Regions from separate parts of the Homo sapiens genome. Here region 1 is linked to region 2. The links come from fine-mapping of genetic effects on gene expression. A gene starts in region 2. The other region holds a variant in brackets. All regions are shown on one strand. Distances are between the middles of the regions.

Region 1 (10,194 bases), 52 kb after region 2:
ATTGTTGAAAGTCATTGAGATTTAAGGGAAGGTCATTTGATACCCAGCATAAGTTTATTTAAGTTGATGGATAAAAAAGTTTCACTCTTAAAATAAAAATTTTATGTACCACCTGCAAATATACAGCAAATTTGAGAAACATAGCATTAGCCATGGTGACCCAAAAATGTATAGTTGAGTATCCCCATTTAATAGAGGAGGAACCTGAGGCTTATAATGGTTAAGTAGTTTGCCCAAAGCCTCTCTGCTAGACAAGGCAGCAGAGATGATTCAGGGTACCATTCTCTAGGGGTCTCAGTCTAGTGGACAGGTAATGGAATTTTCCTTTGGCAAAATAGCTCTGTCAGAGATGTCTCTCCTGGACAGTCTTTTCTTCTCTCATAGCCCCCTTGTGCTCCAAGACCACCAAGAGCCCCTCCTGGCCCCATTCCTGAAAGTTCTTCTCGCAGATGAATGCCAGATGATTCCCGTTAAGGAGTTAGCTGCTAACTACAGGTGTTAACTGCTAATGAAAGTGCCAGCACTAAGATATTAGCTAATAAGGATTAACACCTTTCAGAGTGTTGGTATATTAATAAGGGACCTAGGAGGACCAAAACGATTTCAAAAGCCAGAGGAACAGAACCCAAAAGGTGGCAGAAGAATTTGGTTCAACAATTCTTTCTGCCCCTACTGCGAACTGGGTCTTGAGCCAAGACATGCAGCCAACGTGTTGCATATACATAGAGCTTTGCAGTCTACAGCACTCAGCAGCTTACAAAGCACTTCCTCATCCATCACCTCCCCTGCTCTTCACATCAGCCCAGTGAGGTAAGCTCTGCTAGCCCCAGTTCACTGATGAGAAAGCTGAGGCTCAGAGAGAGGGAGTGAGTTACTCAAGGTCGCATGGTAGTGGGTGACAGACACTGGACTTGCTCCCCGGGCTGCCTGACTCCCAGCCCAGTGCTCCTTTCATGACCCCCCAAGCCCCCAGCACAAGTAGAGAAGAAACCACTGGGGGCCAGACCATCTTCTCCCTTCTTGGACCTAAAATTGACTCTGACCCTAAGGAGTCAGGGCCAAGAACAGTGAATACCCATTTCTACAGGGCTCCCTTTCCTAGCTAAACTTCCATTCACCTTTTTAGACTCAACTCAGATAGCGCCTCTTCCTGGAAGCCCTCCCAGATGGTCATAGGCGGCCTCTTTTGGGGCTGCCACAATATACAGGGCGTATCTTGATCCTACACATTGCCTTAGAATCACTGTGTCCCCAGTGCCACGCAGGCAGCACAGAATGACAGAAGCTGCTGTAAATGCTTGTTGAGTGGATCAATTAATTAATGACTCCGTATTTTTCAGAACAAACTCATCAAAGTGAATTCCACTTACTACCCTCCAAGACAAGATTTATACAAAATGTGGTCACTTTAAAATGAAACAAGAGATGAGCTATTCCCATTTCTTCAAAGCCCTATTAATATTTCATTAGCTACCAGAAGTAGTTGATATTTGTATCTTTGTGTGTCTCTGTGTATAAGTATGTGTATAGACCGTATCTGCCCACCTAGCATTTCTAAAATATGTTCTTTGGACCAGTGAGTGCTGCAGCATAGGAATAGGGTACTATTGGGGGGAAAAGAGGCAGATTTCATGGCCAGATATGTTTGGAAAGCCCTGGATTTAAGATGTATCCATTGCAGGACTTCTCAGAGCCTTTAAGGGTGGCATTTATTGGGCATTTACTATATTCCAGGCAGTGTGCTAAGCACTTTACATTCATTACCTCATTAGCTTATATTCCTCTAGAATGTAAGCTTCTTGAGGACTGACACCATGTCTGTCTTGTTCACCAGCATATCCCTGGAGACTGACACACTGTATCTACTCAATTAATGAATAAATTAACAAATGAATAAATGGCCCTGTAAAGTACATATTGTTACTATTCCCATTTGATAGAGGAGGGAACTGAGTCTGACTACAGAGCCTGGGCTTTTTAACTCTGTTGCTGCTCGTCTTCACTGTAGTAACATGCCTGGCAGATCTGCGGGACAGAGTTCTTGCCTACAGCATTTCCAAGCCTGATTTGCCTAAAAACCTTTTTCTGAAGAAGTATCTTGCAGAATAGGATCATGAGGAACATACCCTAGGAAATGATCCTCTGGGCTCTGCAAGCTGGGTGAGCAGGCCTCCTTGTCTCTGATTTGTCTCCCTAGATGACAGTGCATACAGACTGCAGGGCAGGAGGGAGGGAGAAGCAGGGTATTTTTCTGCTCCCTCTACTCAGGGCAAGGTCTCCACTAGCTGCATCTCCTCCCTGGTTTCTAGTCTTTGGAAAGGCAGCCTCTCCCTCTGTGGTTCCAACTCCTTCTAGGTAGCCCCAACTCCTGGGCTCTTTCTTGTAACGTTGCTTCCTCTTTTGGCCAGGTACGGAGGCTCACGCCTGTGAGCACTTTGGGAGGCCGAGGTAGGAGGATTGCTTGAGCCCAGGAGTTTGAGACCAGCCTGGGCATATGGAGAAACCCCATCTCTACAAAAAATACAAAAAACTAGCCGGGCGTGGTGGTGCATGCCTGTAGTCCCAGCTGTTCAGGAGGCTGAGGTGAGAGGATCGCTTGAACCTGGAGGTGGAGGCAGCAGTGAACTGTGATCACGCCACTGCACTCCAGCCTGGGTGACATAAGGAGACCTGTCTTGAAAAAAAATCACTCCTGTCTTTGTTCCTCCAGTCTTGGGGTTCTTTCTCTCACAGCATCCCATTTACTTGTGCAGCACCCACTAGTCCAAAGAGGATGCCTTCGTCAAATGGTGAATATGGTCTGTAGCATCTTTTCTGCTATTGATAATCTCCAGCCACTGCACTTTCAACTCTTCCAAACCACTGTCACGATTTTGCTAGATTCATGCTCTCCACTGAGCTGCCTGATGCAACACTGACTAATACAACCACCTAAAACAGTAATAGCAATAATTTCACAAACATTCACTCAGCATCATGAATGTGTTAGCTCATTTGATCCTTGTAACAATCCCATGAGAGGTATTCTAATTGCCATCACCGTACTATGGATGAGTAAACTGAGTCCTTGGGAGGTGAAGTAACCTGTTCCAGGTCATACAGTTCATGAATGGGAAGCTGGGATGTGAGCCAAACACACTGGGTCCAGAGCACTATTCCTACCCCCAACCCCCCAGATAACAGTAATAGACAGTTCCTGGGGGTCAGGAAGATCAAACAGAGCCCTTTGTGCCTTTCAGTTCCTGGAGCACAGTAGAGTTCTAGAGGCCTTTCTCCTTGTCTGGTAGTGAGCTTTTCAGCCCTGGAGGTGTGCAAGAAGGGATTGCAGCACTTCTTCACATGGTATTTAAAGGGAACCTCCTTTCATTTGGTCCCCTTCACTAAACCAAAATGAAAAATATTAAATTTGAAAAAAAAATGGAAGCAAACCTCCTAGCAGTGGTCATCCAGGTGAACCAGATGGTGTTTAAGGCTCCCCAGGCTTCTCTTCCCAGTCCCCTGAAAGATGAAGCCACTTGTAATGTCATCAAGACAGGGTCTTTCGAGATCCTGATGAAATACCACCTCTGCTATGAAGCTGCCCCAGGGGCCCCAGCAGAAAGGAGAATTCCCTTTCTGTCACTCAGCATGGCTTTTTATCTCTGCTGTATAGAGCCAAGCTTGCATTATCAGGTTTGTGTTTGGGTCTTCTATGGCCTGCTGGACTGGAAGCTCAGGGAAGATAGAAACTGACGCCAATGCATAGACCTCCTTCTATAGCCCAATCCAGTACCTTGTATGCTATAGACACTCAATAAGTGAATAAGTGTTGGGTGAATAGATAGACAGATAGATGGAAGGATGAGAAAATTTTAAAAAGGAAGAAAGAAGGAAGGAGAGAGAGAGAAATGGGATAGGTGGATGGGGGAGGAGGGATGAGCAAATATGGATGGATGGATGGACAGATGGATGATGAAAGTATGGATCAATGGGTGGATGAAAAGATGGATAGATAGAAGAATGTATGTATGGATGTATGGATGGATGGAAGGATGGGAAATGCATATAGATGGCTAGACAATAGATTGATTGATAGATGTGAGAAGGTGATGGATAGAATGAGTGGATAGATGGATGGATGGGAAGATGGATAGATGAAAGGATGCATGGATGGATAAATGAAGGGATGCATGGATGGATGGATGGATGGATGGATGGATGGATGGATGGACTGGGTAGATAGTTAGATAAACGTATTTATAGAGACTGTGAGGTGTTGTGCAGTAGACACTCTAGAATTTCTATGTGGGGCCCACAATCTGCCTAGAAGGTGGGCTTGCCACCATATTTGCAGAACACTTTACATAAGATTGAGAAACTAGCTATTGCCCATGTGAATGAAATGAGAAAGAAGTGACAGAGATTATGGAAGCCTAAAACCCCTGCAGCTGCCACTGCAGGTGTGACCATAATCACCTAAAATAGTAAGATTCTGAAAATCTGTGGCCCTAAGAAGATTCAAAGGTTTTAAAGTTCTGTGTCTCTAAAACTTAGACTTGAAGATTCTGTGTCTTTAAGAACTCTATATCTACCAATATGAGCAACATGCTCTGTGCCGGGCATTGTTCTAAGCACTTTAGATACAAAGATTAGTTCCTATAATCCCCACGGCCACCCGTGGTCTAGACACTATTACACTATTACCACCCTCATAATGAGGCACAGAGATGCTGAGGTGTTTGCCTTAGATAACACAGCTAGTAAGTGGCAGAACTGGGATGTCAACCCAATCAGGTTAGGCGGGATCCAGAGTCCCCGCTTTTAACCACCACACAATCCTGCCTCAAGGAATGAAGGATTGTACGCATCTAAGTTTCGAAGATTCAGTGCTCAAGACTTGAAGAGTCTGCAATTCTGAGGCTCTAAGCGTCTCCACACCCAGGACTCTTCAGACGCTGAGGGAGAGAAAAGGAGAGAGAGTCTGGCTGGCTCCTACGAACACCAGCCCTGCTGATGTCAGGCA[C/A]CTGGCTGTCACTCTTCCTGTTAACCTTGGGGAGAAAAACACATTTGTGGCAGATAACAGGCATGAGGGTGTGCCGGCCCTCCACTCACTCCCGGGCCTGATGGATGGGCTACATGGGCCCCCCCGACCTGTGTGTGTACTGTTATCTGCTCAGCCAAGGGAAGCTGTTCATCATGCCGACAGCTTGGCGAGGCACACCTGCTGGGACTGCGTCAACCAGAGCCACCAGCATCCTGGGAGGAAGAAGGGGAGGTGATGGGGGGCAGTAGGGCAGGGGAGACACAGAGAAAAGGGCCAAGGGCTCAGTATCAGTACCAGAGGGTGGCACTAAATTCTGGGTACCATGGATGTGCTGTGTGACCACAGACTAGTCACTTAACCTCTCTGAGCTGTAAAATAAGATTAAGCTTTGCCAGAAACCTGGGGGTTGTACTTTCCTCCTTCTCATGCTCCACATCCAATCACCAGGTTCTGTCCATTCTACCTCCCAGTCTGTCGTGATCCTACCCATTTCTTACCAACAACTCTACCGAAACCACCTTGGTCCAGGCCACCATCATCTCTGCCTGGATGATGCTACAGCCTTCTCCCTGGGTTCCCTCCTTCCTGCCCACTATATTCCATTCTTCACATTTTACAGTTCAGAGAGGTTAAGTGACTAGCCTCTGGTCACACAGCACATTCATGGTACTGCCAGGAACGGAAGTCTGGCATCACGCCCAGAAGTCAGTGCCACGGCAGCCAGAGGATCTCTATTACAAAATGAGATCACATCACTCTCCTGCTTAAAACCCTCTAATAGCTCCCTGTCACACTTAGAAATAAGTCCAAACTCCTTGCCAGAGCCCTGCAAAACCTGGCCTCTCCCGCCCTGTCCATCCTTATGTCACACCTGCCAGCCCCCTTGCGTACCAAGTTTCAACCATGCCACCCATCCCTTTTCCACCTCTTAGCCTTTGCACATGCTGTTCCCTCGGATGCGAACACTCTTCCCCAGCCCTTTGCGTGGCTGGCCAGCTCCCTCTCATCTGCAGCTCTCAGCTCAATTGCCACCCCCTCAGAAAGGTCTTGCCAGCCTGAAGTACTACTCCAGTTCCCAATCTCACTCTGTCACGGCACCCAGTGTATTCCCTTTCTGGGACTGATTGCAACCTGAAATTGTGTTGTTTGTTTCTTTGTGTGTTTATTGTCTGTCTCTCCCACTAGAATGGAAGCTCCAAACGTTATGGGTTGTTGTCTTACTCACTACTGTGTCCCTGAGTGCTTCCTCAGTACAAAACCACACATTCTTTCCACCCCAGGGCCTTTGTGCCAGCTGTCCCTTTGCCTGGAACTCTCTTCTCTGCTTATTTAACGCCTACTCACCCTTCAGATCTATGGCAGGGCATATTTTGCAAAGATAGGCACAACAGCATCTTTTATCTTACGTGTTCTTTATAAAATATGACCTTGAGACTTGTCCTGGGAAGAAGTGGGGCCCGTGTTCCCTTCCCTTGATTTGGGGCAGGCTATGACTTGTTTGTGGCCAATAGGATGCCATGTAAGTGACACTGGGACACTTCTGGAAGGAGGTCAAGGACATTGGCTCTGGAGCCCTAAGCTACATTTAAGCAGCATGACTGTCCTGAGGATGCCATGCTATGAGGAAGCCCAAGCCGGCCTCTGCAGAAAGACCACATGGAGAATCCCTGAGATCACCTACAGAGAAGGAAAGAGATGTCCAGCATCTTCCAGCTGCTCCAGCTCCAGCCATCATCTAACTGAAACCTCATGAGAGACCCTGAGTCAGAGCTGCACAGCAGAGCCCTTCTGAATCCCTGATCCACAGAAACCACAAGCATCAACAAAAATTGTAGTTTTAAGCTACTAGGTTCATTTGTTATACAGCAATAAATAATCAGAACAAGATCTCAGTTCATGTGCCACCTTCCCAGGAAGCCCTCCATAACTAGGAGCACTAGGTCAGGACCCTGTACTTCCATTTTATTTTATTTTATTTTACTTTATTTAGATACAGTGTCCTACTCTGTTTCCCAGGCTGGAGTGCAGTGTCATGATTGCAACTCGCGGCAGCCACCATTCCCCAACTTAAGCGATCCTCCCACCTCAGCCTCCTGAGTAACTGGGACTTCAGGTGTAAACCACATGGCCAGCTAATTTTTTAGTTTTTGTAAAGACGGGATCTCCCCATGTTGCCCACGATGGTCTAGCACTCCTGGGCTCGCACTCCTGGGCTCAAGTGATCCTCCCACCTTCGCCTCCCAAAGTGCTGGAATTACAGGTGTGAGCCATCATGCCTAGCCTACTTTTTCTTTATAACATATAGCACGGTTGGTAATTATGTAGTTATTTATGTGATGGCTGATTTTTGTCTCTCTCTCTCTCACTTAAATATAAGCTCTGGGAAGGGGGAGAATAATCCTTATCTTGTTCACCATTGTATCCCCAACAGTGAATAGTGCCTGGCACATAATAAGTGTTCAGCGAATACCACTGATTCAATAATTTCACTAAGTTACTACAACCACCCTGTAATGCTGGCTGTATTACCTCCATTTTTCAGACAAGGAAACTGAGTGAGATTCAGAGATGTTCTGTTCTTGCTCAAGGCCACACAGCAGAGCAGGATCCTAGCCTGTTTCTCTCTGACTTGAAAGCCAGAGCCCACCTCCTGACAGGTGGAGGGATGGGGTACTAGCCTGAGGTCCTCTAAGTGGTAGCTGAGAAGGGCCACAGGTGTCCTTTTATGTAAACTTCTGTCTTACCCTTGCAGAGAAAGAGGCCCAGAGAGGGGAAGGGACTGGCCCAAGGTCACACAGCTCATCAATGTTCAAGCTGGGACAAGACCCGGGGCCCTACATTCTTTACCCAGAGCTCCTCTCACTGCACCCTCAAACCTGCCTTCAACACCTGCCATGCACGGAGCCCAGGACTAGACTCCAGGAGGGACAGACACAAGAAAATCAATGGTCCCTTTGTGGAGAGAACTCAAATGTCTACATAGTAAAGGGGACAAGCAGAACAATTATTTATGAAAATCAACTGTGTTCCAGACAAGCCTAAAAGACACTTTTCATGACAAGCCTGTAAGATACTCTCACAAGATATCCTTTCACAAGAGGAAGCTGAGGCTCAGAGAGATTCGAGGACTAACCCAAGGTCACCAGACTTATAATTGCCAGCTCAGAATTTGAATCCAGAGTTGTCTGTCTCCAGGATGCCCTCCAGTGTGCCAGGCTGTCTCACCAGAGCTAAGGGAGCCTCGAGGCCATGGAGAATGGGCTGGGCACGGTGGCTCATGCCTGTAGTCCCAGCACCTTGCGAGGCCAAGGCGGGTGGATCACTTGAGCCTAGGAGTTGGAGACCAACCTGGGCAACACGCTGAAACCCAGCTCTACTAAAAACATAAAAATTAGCCAGGCATAGTGTTACGTGCCTGTAGTCCCAGTTACTTGGGAGGCTGAGGTGGGAGAATCACCTGAGCCTAGGAGGTAGAGGTTGCAGTGAGCTGTGATTGCATCACTGCACGCCAGCCTGAGTGATAGAGGCCCCATTTCAAAATAAAATAAAAAAATAAGGACTGGGGGCTGGACACGGTGGCTCACGCCTGTAATCCCAGCACTTTGGGAGGCCGAGACGGGCAGATCACGAGGTCAGGAGATCGAGACCATCCTGGCTGACACGGCGAAACCCCGTCTCTACTAAAAATACAAAAAATTAGCCGGGCGTGGTGATGGGCGCCTGTAGTCCCAGCTACTCGAGAGGCTGAGGCAGGAGAATAGCGTGAACTCGGGAGGCGGAGCTTGCAGTGAGCCAAGATCGCACCACTGCACTCCAGCCTGGGCAACAGAGTGACACTCTGTCTCAAAAAAATAATAAAATAAAATAAAATAAAATAAAATAAAATAAAAATAAGGATTGGGAATTAAGGAAAGCTGCATGGAGAACCCAGCACCAAGGAGCAACCTGAGTTAGTCCCTGAAAGAAGTAGTGTGGTTTCCAAAGACTGAGCTGGGGAGAGCGTGTTCCAGGCAGAGGCAGGGCGTGTGGGCAAAAGTCTAGAGGTGGACAGGGCCAGCAAGTCTGGTGGCCCAAGCTGGAGGCATGCGAGTTGAGGCTTGGAGGGGCGGACTGTGCTGTTCCTGCCCCTCACTGCCTCTGCAGCCCCCAGTCACCTTCCCTGGCAGCCCACCCATCCCCCATCCACCAGAGCAACGAGTGGAAAATGAATGAGTCTGTTTATGAAGCCCATAATGTTGCCAGCAACACAAGGCACTCAGCGGAGCCGCTCGGCGCCTCTAATGGGATATTATTTATGTCATTTTCCTCCTGGCGCTGGAGCCATTACCACCCGGAATGGTGCTCCGTCACCCTCCACTCCCCCAGTGATGTGCCAATGTCATGCTGAAGGATGAGCGCTGCAGTTGTCATGGGCAGCACCTCACTGCCAGCCTCTGGACCTGAGCTTCGGAGAAGTGGCAGGGCAGGGGGGTGACGGGCAGCCCCCTACACCCTGCCAATATGAGGCCACTGGGCGCACGCCCGCCAGTGGGATCTAGCTTCTCTTGGGTTGCCGTTGGTGCCAGCCACCCTGCCAGGTGCTGAGAATCCTCCCATGGCTCCTCATTACCCTGCAGACAGAGCCCCATATTTCCATCTGTCAATAAGCCCTCTGGACTTTGGCCCCTGCCCACCTTCCCAGCCTTAGCTTGGCCTCTTGCGTGTAAGTTCTGTAATCAGACAGGCCTGGTCTCGTGTATCGTCCCAGATTGACTCGATCCACCTGTCCCCTCTTGCTCAATGAAGAGCCCGGCTGCTGTCTTTGGCTCTTCTTCTAGTCCAGCTGCCTCAGTTTCCCCCGGGTGAGGACTAGCCTTCTGCAGACACCCCATCAAGCCTGTCAAGCTGCAGCAGCTGACCCCCTGGGTCCAACTCGATCTGAGGGAGGCTCTTTCCACCACTTTCACATTCAGATAAAGCACCATGCTTAGGGCAGGGGATCAGGCTTCCCTAGTGGCTTCCTGGAGGGGCTGAGTAACAGCACTCCTTGCAGCAAATCAGGAACATTGACAACCATGAACCAGGAAGGAGCCGCAGACAAATGGACTATTCCAAAAATGGGAGGTTCCACATGGCTTGCGTATCTGCCACTCCAAGTGACCCAGCACCCAGTTGCATTGGCTCAAAAAGGT
Region 2 (10,194 bases):
GGCTCAGTGTAACTTCTGCTTCCCAGGCTCAAGTAATCCTCCCTCCTCAGCCTCCTAAGTAGCTGGGACCACAGACACACACCACCATGCCCAGCTGATTTTTAAACTTTTTGTAGAGACAGGTTTTCACCATGTTGCCCAGGCTGGTCTGGAACTCCTGGACTCAAGAGATCCGCCTGCCTTGGCCTCCCAAAGTGCTGGGATTACAGGGGTGAACAACCACGCTTGGCCTCAAAGAACTTTTGCATCCATAAACTCATGACTTTCTGCAAGAGGATGGGTGCAACTGATTATGAACTACATTCCAGCCTTTACCATCTTTTAGGAACAGGAAGAGTGGACATGGATCTTACAAAAAGAAAACTGAATGAACAGAACACATGGGGAATGTACAGAGTTGGAAATAAGGAGACCAGGATTCTGAGATAAGGGCCAGGTGGTGTAAGGAAGCCAGGGCCTGAATAAGGTCCTGAGGTGGATTTTGGGACTGGTGCTGCTTTCCAAGCCTTAGACCATGATTCTGAATTTGGGTTCTGAAACTTAGCCTTGAATTGAGGATATTTCGCTGAGCAAAGGCCTAGAGCTGGTTTTTGGTGCCTAACGGGTGGGCCTCTCACCTCTCGAATGGTTCTAGCCGGCCAATTAACCAAAGTGGGGAACCTGCGATGGGGAAGGAGATGCTCCTGGCTGGCCAGCTGGACATGAGCATGCCCGCCCTAGGCTGGCGAGATCAAAGTGCTCTCCAGTAGCAGACTTAGGAGGTTTCAGCCCTGTTACTGGTTCAGTTCAGTGTTGTCAACCTGAATTAAATGAGTTCTAGTATTGTAGTTCCTTATTGTGCAACCAACATATTTGCATTTTAAAACTCTTAGATTGAACCCTCAGATACAATAGAAAATGTAAAGGCCAAGATCCAGGATAAGGAAGGCAAGTAATATTTTGCAGTTCAGGAAAATTAGCCTGTGGCAACCCCAATCTACCTGTAGGCGCTAGGCATATTTGCTCTTGGTGAGGGGGAAAGGGGTCAGATTGACAAAATGAAATACTTTTGGAATAACACAATAAACAAATGTTTATGATCACGAAGCAAAGCTACCTAGATTGGAATCCTTGAGGTACATTTCACTTGTGTGAATCTGGACACGTTTTTTATTCTCTATACCTATTCCCTCATCTTTAAAATGAAGGTTCCTATATTAACATATTAAGTACTGCCATTAAGATTAAATGTGGTAAGATGTGTAAACATTAAAAAATAATAATAAGGAGACCAGGATTCTAGTTTCAACTCTGGCCACCATCTTGGCCCACAACCTCAGGTGAGTCCCTTTATCAGACTAAGGTTCACTTTCATCCATGAACAAGTGGGTTGAATGAAGGTATCTACCGTATCTCTCAAAGTCAAGGTCTTTATCGTGGCCCACAAGGAAGGCCTACATAGTCTTGTCACATGCCTACATCTTCAGCTTTGTCACTTACCATTCCCCTGCTCACTTCCCGTTTCAGCTACATAGATCCTCTTTCTGGTCCCCTATGAGGCTGCACCAGCTTCTACCAATAGCCTATGTCCATACTTGCTGTTCTTGCTGCCTCCATCATTCTGCTCCCTTCACATGACTGGGTCCCTCTCAACCTTCAGTCCTTTAATGCCCATTCCTCTGTGTCCTTCCTCGACCACATTACATAAAGTAAAAGGTCCTGTCCCCAACTCCCAGGGGTTATTTTCGACAGGAGTGTTGTCCAATAAAAATACAACAAAAGCCACAAACAAAACACCTAACTTTACATTTTCTTTCTTTTTTTTTTTCTTTGAGAGAGAGTTTCGCTCTTGTTGCCCAGGCTGGAGTGCAATGGGATGATCTCAGCTCACTGCAACCTCTACCTCCCAGGTTCAAGCAATTCTCCTGCCTCAGCCTCCCAAGTAGCTGGGATTACAGGCATGCACCACCACGCCCGGCTAATTTTTTATATTTTTAGTAGAGACATGGTTTCTTCATGTTGGTCAGGCTGGTCTCAAACTCCCAACCTCAGGTGACCCACCCGCCTCAGCCTTCCAAAGTGCTGGGATTACAGGCATGAGCTACCACACCCGGCCCACTTTACATTTTCTAGTAGCCACATTTTAAAAGTTTTTTAAAAAGCAACATTAATTTTAATAATATATTTTCTTTAATCCAATATATCGTAAGTGTTATCATTTATTCAACATGTAATCAGCATAAAAGTTAAGGTACTGTACATTATTTTCACGTGGCCAGGGGCAGTGGCTCACGCCTGTAATCACAGCACTTTGGGAGGCCAAGGCTGGCAGATCACCTGAGGTTGGGAGTCAAGACCAGCCTGACCAACATGGAGAAACCCCATCTCTACTAAAAATACAAAAATTAGCCAGGCGTGGTGGCGCATGCCCGTAATCCCAGCTACTCAGGAGGCTGAGGCAGGAGAATCGCTTGAACCCAAGAGGCAGAGGTTGCAGTCAGCTGAGATCTCACCATTGCACTCCAGCCTGGGCAACAAGAGTGAAACTCCATCTCAAAAAAAAAAAAAAAAAAAAAAAAAGATATTGTACATTATTTTCATACTAAATCTTTGAAATCCAGTGTGTATTTTGCACATGTAGCAGATCTAAATTCGAAACTAGTCACATTTTAAGTATTCAATAATCACATGTGCCTAGTGGCTACTATACAAAGCAGTGCAATTTTATAGCATACTCTGCTATATTCCCTTCCCAGCACTTACCACAAACTGAATGCATTGTTTACTTATTATCTTGTAACTTCCCACCAGATGCTCCACAAAAGCAAGAATCTTGTCTTTTATTCAGTGTTGTATACCCAGTGGATAGACTGCCTTGCACACAGTAGGTGTTCAATATATATTTGTTGAGCAAATGAATGAAACTCTTCTAGCTTTAATGGGCTAGCCATTCTAGAAATTCCAAGCCGGCATACAATCACTGATTTAATAACTTGCCTATTTCCCTTCATCTTTCACTATCAATTAAACTGTCTTTAAAAGAAAAATCTCTTGGCTATATAGCTCCCCATTGCTGAACTGTTCTTTCCCATGATGTCTTAAGCGTCCAGGGTCAATTTCTTGTACTTTGGCTGAGGGAGTGGTATGAAAATAACTGCTAATATTTACTGAATGTTTACTCTTTGGCAAGCATTGTCTAAGGACTTTCCATTTCTCAACAGCTTCACAACAGCCCTGTGAGGCAGCTACCGTCACTGTCCCCCATTTACAGATGAAGAAACCAAGGCAGAGAGAAATTAAGTATTTTGTTCAAGGTTACAGCAGCCAGTTAGTAGCAAAACAGAGACTGCCAGCAACCTAGGGGTCCAGACTCATGGCTCTTAATCACCTATTCTTGACTGCAGGGCTGTCTAACAAAAATATAAGCTGAACTATATATGTTGTTTTAAATTTTCTAGTAAACACATTAAAATGTCAAGAGGGGCAGTTAAAATTGGTTTTAAACATATTTTATTGGCTGAGTGTGGTGTGTGGTGGCTCATACCTGTAATCCCAGCACTTTGGGAGGCCAAGTGGGAAGACTGCTTGAGGCTAGGAGTTTGAGACCATCTTGGGCAACATAGCAAGACCCTGTCTCTACAAAAAATTTAAAAATCAGCCAAGCATAGTGATGCCTGCCTGCAGTCCTAGCTACTTGGGAGGATACCTTAGACCTAGGAGTTTAAGGCTACTGTGAGCAATGATTGTGCCACTGCACTCCAGCATGGGCGACAGAGCAAGATCCTGTCTCTAAATAACAATAAAATAAAATTTTAAAAATTAATTAAGTATATTTTATTTCACCCATTATCCAAAATATGATCATTTAATCAATATGACCAATAACCAATGTAATTGATATAATCAGTACGATCATGTAATCAATATAAAAATTTCACTTTTTCCATACTAGTCTCCAACCCAAATGTGTCTTTATACTTACAGTATTTCTCAATTCAGACTAGTCACATTTCAAGCAATCAACAGCCTATGTGGCTAGTGGCTACGACATTCGGCAGTGCAGCTCTACTGCTCCTCGCAATGACCCTCCTATGGAATCAAAGTGGGGGAAAAACTTTGGGGTGGAAGTCAGTACGCCTGAGCTCAAATTCCAGCTCCTTGTTTCTGAGTGACTTTGGACAAGCCCTTTCTGCTCTCTAGGTCCCATACAGTTTCCCCACAAGTTTCCTAGGCAAGGGGGACCCTGAGCAAGATTCCTAGAAACTCATTCCATGCTAGAATTCCCAACATCTCCTGCAAATCGCAGTAAACACAAGCACAGCTTTCCACACTTTAAAACCAGCTTTCATACATATCAGTTGGTACAGTCCTCAAACAACCCTACTAAGGCAGTTATTAGTGTCTCCACTATATAGATACAAAAACTTGGTTCAAAGAGGGGGGGAATGACTTGTCCAAAAGCCACATAGCCAGTCAGTGGAGAAGCTGGAGATCAAATCCAAGTGAGACCAGTGCACTCCCACCGCCGCCACCACCATCACCTCAATGACTGGGGGGACATGAGAGCTGAGAGGACATGGTTGTGAAAAAAAGGATAGTCTGGGGTTTCAGAGGAGTTTCAGGGAACCAGGCCCCAGGGTGAGGAAGAGGAGGTGAAGGGCTCAGGTCTTGAGAAGGGATGAATCGAAAGGGCCCAGGAGGGCTTCGGAGAGCAAAGTAAAACGAGGGGCTGAGACCCCGGGTGGCATGAGAAGTTAGAGGGCCCGGGAGTGAGGCGAGAGGAGGTGAGATGAAAGGGCTCTGGCTCCTGCGACCCCTGCCCAGGTGAGAACGCGGTCGCTCGGCCCTCCCTGCCCCTCATACCTGGTAGCTCAGAAGTTCGCCCACGTCCATGGTACCCGGCCCAGCAAATACTCCACTTCCCTGCACTCACGCCCAGACCGCGGGCCCGTCAGCCGCGGCTCCAGCCACACTGCCGTAAAGTGCGGCGAGCGGAGCCGCAGAGCCAATAGGGCAAAAGTGCGAGCGACAAGCGAGCCGGCCACACCGCGGTAAAAGGACGCGCCGCCGTAAAGCGCGCTGCATTTGGAACAGGGTTGCTTCCGCCTGGAGCCTGAGGGGGCGGGGAAAGGGGGCGGAGACTTAGAGGAGGGGCGGGAGGGGAGAGCAGGGACCAGAAGAAACCAAACTTGATTGCGCGTCCCTAGTGTCCAGGGCGGAGTGCCGGGTGTTTCGTGTGCGCTCTCACGAGCTTCCAGTGATTTATCCTCATTTCACAGAAAAGGAAACTGACGCTCCCAACTGCACCATCCAATACTTTACTCACTAGCCACATATGGCTACCGAGCGCTTGAGATATGGCTACTCCGAAGTGAGATGTGCCATAAGTGTAAATAAAATACACACCAGATTTCTAAGACTTACATTGATTACAGGTTGAAATGATATTTTGGATATACTGGGTCAAATTCATATATTATAAAATGAATTTTACCTGTTTCTCTTTACTTCTTAAATGTGGTTAGTAGAAAGTTTTAAATTACACATGTGGCTCTCATTTGTGGTTCCCATTAATTTCTATCAGATAGTGCTGGCTCAAAAAGTGACTTGTTCCAAGGCTGTACAACTATTACTGGCTGAGAAACTATTGGTGATCACATGTCCCTCTCTAGGCTTGTGTCTGCTCATCTATGCGAAGTCTAACGGTCACTAGATGATCCCCTTGCTACCCAGGTGATATAAAAAGGTTTCTGGAGGAGAAAGTTGCCCATAATTGGAAGAGAATCATTCAGAGTGCATCTGATCTTAAACAAGATCAGAATGCACCTGGGACTTAAGGCTCCATCTTCAAAGGAAATTAAACCTCCTTCCATAAGCCCCTGTCCTTTATATTTATAATTATATTTATGTATTATATTATATTTATATGCCCTTCATATTTATAATTTTGGTCCCCATCCCATCTGCACTGGCTCCAATTATACAGAAATTATTCTTATTCCTCAGAATGACAAATCCTCTCCCCTTCTGCCTGGCCATCAGCACCATACCTCATCCAATTCTCTCATCTTTCGGGTCTCAAATGTCACTTTCTTACAAGGGCTTCTTCAACTCACCCTGGTCCAGGTAATCAACCTCTCTCCTCATTATTCTTTTTCCAAGTACCTGCTCCACTACGTATATATCTCATTCTGTAATTTTGTGCTTAATGGTTGACTATTTGTTTCTTGACAGCCTCATTTACTGGATTGCAAGCTCTATGCAAGCAGGACATGTGTGTGTCATGTTCACCACTGTATCCCCCAAGCCTAGTACAGTGCCTGGTAGAGGGAGAGGTTTCATAATGGGCCTTGTGTGCCATGGTAAAGAGATTAGATTTTGGCTAGGCGTGGCCGGGCGTGGTGGCTCACGCCTGTAAGCTCAGCACTTTAGGAGGCCAAGGCGGGCAGATCACTTGAAGTCAGGAGTTTGAGACCAGCCTGACCACCATGGTGAAACCTCGTCTCTACTAAAAATTACAAAAATTAGCTGGGCATGGTGGCACATGCCTCTACTTGGGAGGCTGAAGCAGGAGAATCGCTTGAACCCAGGAGGCAGAGGCTGTAGTGAGCTGAGATTCCACCACTGCACTCCAGCCTGGGTGACAGAGCAAGACTCTGTCTCAAAAAAAAAAAAAAAAAAAAGAGAGAGAGATTGGATTTTATGCTAACGGCATAAGGAAAGTTTTAAGCAAGGTAGTTTTGTGACTGGGCTTATGTTTTTAAAGGATCACCTATGCAATCTGCATTGAATTCAGTCTATTTGGGTGTCTTTCCCCCTCCTACTTATATAAGAATATGGACTGTGCCCGGCCGGGTGTGGTAGCTCACGCCTGTAATCCCAGCACTTTGGGAGGCCGAGGAGGGCAGATCACGAGGTCAGGAGATTGAGATCTTCCTGGCCCACATGGTGAAAACCCATCTCTACTAAAATACAAAAAATTAGCCAGGTGTGGTGGCACGTGCCTGTAGTCCCAGCTACTTGGGAGGCTGAGGCAGGGGAATCGCTTGAACCAGGGAGGTGGAGATTGTAGTGAGCCAAGATGGCACCACTGCACTCCAGCCTGGCGACAGAGCAAGACTACGTCTCAAAAAAAAAAAAAAAAAATAGAATATAGACTGTGCCTTGTTTGGGAAGACAGGAGAGAGTAATGGTGAGGGTGTACCCTTTGGACCCAGACCCCTGTGTTCTAGTTCATGGTATGTTGATGCCAGCTTGCACAGACAGGTCTACAAAAGCCCATGGTTAAATTTGTAGGAAACTTGCAAGCTGATTGACACCAGGTTGATAGCTTGAAATCAGCCATGCTAGGAGTATTTGTACAATGTAAATCAGCAAATGCTACAAATCAGGGTTGTTAATGTTGTTGTTTTTCCAGAGAGCTACTTGTAGGGTTTTTTTGTTTCTTTGTTTGCTTTTGAGACAAGCTCGGGCTCTATCACCCAGGCTGGAGTGCAGTGGCGGGATCTCAGCTCACTGCAACCTCCCCCTCCCGGGCTGAAGCCCACCTCAGCCTCCCAAATAGCTAGGACTACAGGCGTGCGCCACCATGCCTGGCTTATTTTGTTGTTGTTGTTGTTGTTGCTGTTGTTGTAGAAATAGAGTTTCACCATGCTGCCCAGGCTGGTCTCAAACTCATGAGCTCAAGCAATCCCCCCGCCTTGGCCTCACAAAGTGCTGGGATTACAGGCATGAGCCACTGCACCCAGCCGAGCCAGTTGTTAAACATCTACCCAACACACCCTGATTCTGGTTCTAGTGGAAGTTCCACCATATCTAGCCATGGGTCCTTGGGTAAGTTACTTTCTCTGTCCCTAAATTACACTTTCCTTATCTGTAACATGACTCATTCATTCATTCATTCATTCAACAAGTATTTACTGAGAGCCTACTCAATGCTAGGCACAATTCTGGGCTCTGAGGATATGGAAGTTTATAAAACAAAGCTCCTGCCTTCTGGAAACCTACATTCTAGTTTGGGTGAAAACCTCATGGAGAAAATGTTGATATGAGTCTTATTTTACAGATGTGGAAACAGTGGCAATGAACTTCACCTCTACATGCCTGATTTTCTCACCTGCAAAGTGGAGATTCAACCAAATCTACCTCATAAGGTTATGGAGGGTTTACATGAAATGCTGTATGCAAAGCACTTGGCACAGTGCCTGGCACAGAAAAGTGCTGTGTGTCTTATATTAATATTGTAAGGAGTTGGCAGCTGGGCACGGTGGCTCATGTCTGTAATCCCAGAGCTTTGGGAGACCAAGGCGGATCCCTTGAGCCCAGGAGTTCGAGACCAGCCTGGGCAACATAGTGAGACCCTGTCTCTACAAAAAAATAGAAAAAAAATTTAGCCAGATGTGGTGGCACGTGCCTGTAGTCTCGGCTACTCAGGAGGCTGAGGCTGGAGAATCACTTGAGCCCAGGAGGCAGAGGTTGCAGTGAGCCAGGATTGTGCCACTGCATCCTGGGTGACAGAGCAAGACCTTGTCTCTCAAAAAAAAAAAAAAAAAAAAGAAAGAAAAAGGAGTTGAGTGGGATAGGGGCAAGGGAGAGGGCAGGAAGAATGAGAGAATTCCTTATAACCTTTCCTTTTTAGGCAATCAGTCTTGTCTGTTTTTGTAGAGACCAGTTCTAAAACACAGAATTATAAGGCAAAATCCTATAAGAACCAGGTTTGGTGAGCACCCTGAACTGGGGCTAATGTGCTCTGCTAGAGGTTTCCCTGAGAACGTAACATCTGGACAGGGGTTTAAAGGGAAAGAAGAGTTTACCAAGAAGATACAGTGGGAGAATGGTGACCCAGGCAGAGGGAACAGCATGAGCAAAGACAAGGCAATTGGACCCTTCCTTGTGGACAGAGCTTCAAATGTGTGGAAGAAAAGGTGGAGAGGCTGGCTGGAGAAGATCACGAAGAGGGTTAACAGATTTAGCAAATAAAAATACAGGACACCCAGTTAAATCTGAATTTCAGACAAATAATGAATTTTTTATAAATTTGTCTCATGCAATATTTAATAACATACTAAAAATGTTTTCTGTCTGAAATTCAGAATTAAATGGGCATTATTTATTTTATCTGGCAACCCTAATCTTGGAGAAACTTGAATGCCAGATTAAGATATTTTCATTTTATCTTGATGAGAGGGTCCATTAATAATTCTTTGGGAACCCCCAGGAATGAGACTTGGGGCGCTCACCCTTCAGGTCTCAGCTTAATTGCACACATCAGAGGAATCTTTCCTGACCACAAGATTTAAGACAGTTCCTCCCCTTCAAGATTCTCTATCAGCATTCCTGACCATTATTATCTTCAGAACACTTATTGTTTTTGTTTTTATATTTGTTTGCTTTTTACCCATTTGTGGACTGCTTTCCCTTCCAGATTCTAAGCTCCAGAAGAGCAAAGATTGCTGTATCATTTACCACAGTAAACTCAGAACCTAACACAGTACCTGGCACTTAATTGTTACTCACTAAATAGTTGTTGATTTAATAAATGAACCAACTAATCTACTGATTGATTGATTCATTAATTCCTGGTCATAACAATCTCAAATACCTTCAAATTCTCACCCAAAGGCCAGGTGTGATGCCTCCTACCTATATAATCCCAGCACTGTGGGAGACCAAGACAGGAGGATCCCTTGAGGCCAGGAGTTTGAAACCAGCCTGAGAAACAAAGTAAGACCCTGCCTCTACAAAATAAAAATAAAAATATTAGCTGGGTATGGTGGCATGTGCCTGGAATCCCAGCTACTCAGGAGGCTGAGGTGGGAGGATCACTTGAGCCAATGATGTTGGGGCTGCAGTAAGCCAAGATCACACCACTGCACTCCAGCCTGGGCAACAGAGCAAGATCCTGTCTCAGAAAAAAATTTTTTTTTTACTTCTCACCCAAAATCCTAACAATGTGACTATTTCAATTTTAAAGACAAAAAAAGGAATGCTCAGAAGAGCTATGTGCTATGCACCAAGCAGAATGAAATTGTGACGATAATGATTTCAGAGTGGCATCCAGGAGGGAGTTAGGAGAAGAGCACCATTCAAGAGACCAACTGCTGGGCTGTAACCTTTAAAAAAAATGTGGAAGAATTACCCCTTCCAGAAAGCTTTTAAATAGCCATGGGCTGCCTAGGTTCCTTAAACTTCACACTTTAGATGCTCCAAAGTGTA

Direction of the effects. Alleles are on the strand shown, and positions count from the first base shown. SD is a standard deviation of normalised expression in the study named.
With allele C in place of A in region 1, the expression in spleen of the gene that starts at base 4,965 in region 2 is lower (large effect, 0.75 SD a copy in GTEx).

Evidence for each region. PIP is the estimated chance that this variant, and not a neighbour inherited with it, causes the effect.
Region 1: its variant is fine-mapped to the expression of CTNNBL1 in spleen (GTEx, PIP above 0.99).

Annotation. Positions count from the first base shown.
Region 1 is chr20:37,636,303-37,646,496 of GRCh38, reverse strand. No RefSeq gene overlaps it. Among named protein-coding and RNA genes, the nearest start is that of LINC00489, 18 kb to the right of the region's middle. The variant C/A (reference allele first, on the strand shown) is at 5,003.
Region 2 is chr20:37,688,801-37,698,994 of GRCh38, reverse strand. It overlaps CTNNBL1 (catenin beta like 1), which reads right to left and starts at 4,965. Exons shown (of 16, transcript NM_030877.5): 1 at 4,843-4,965. The coding sequence starts at 4,872. LOC105372609 (a long non-coding RNA gene) reads left to right here and starts at 7,719. Exons shown (of 4, transcript XR_936703.1): 1 at 7,719-7,812; 2 at 8,045-8,132. RefSeq lists a silencer at 1,495-1,644 and an enhancer at 4,628-4,687.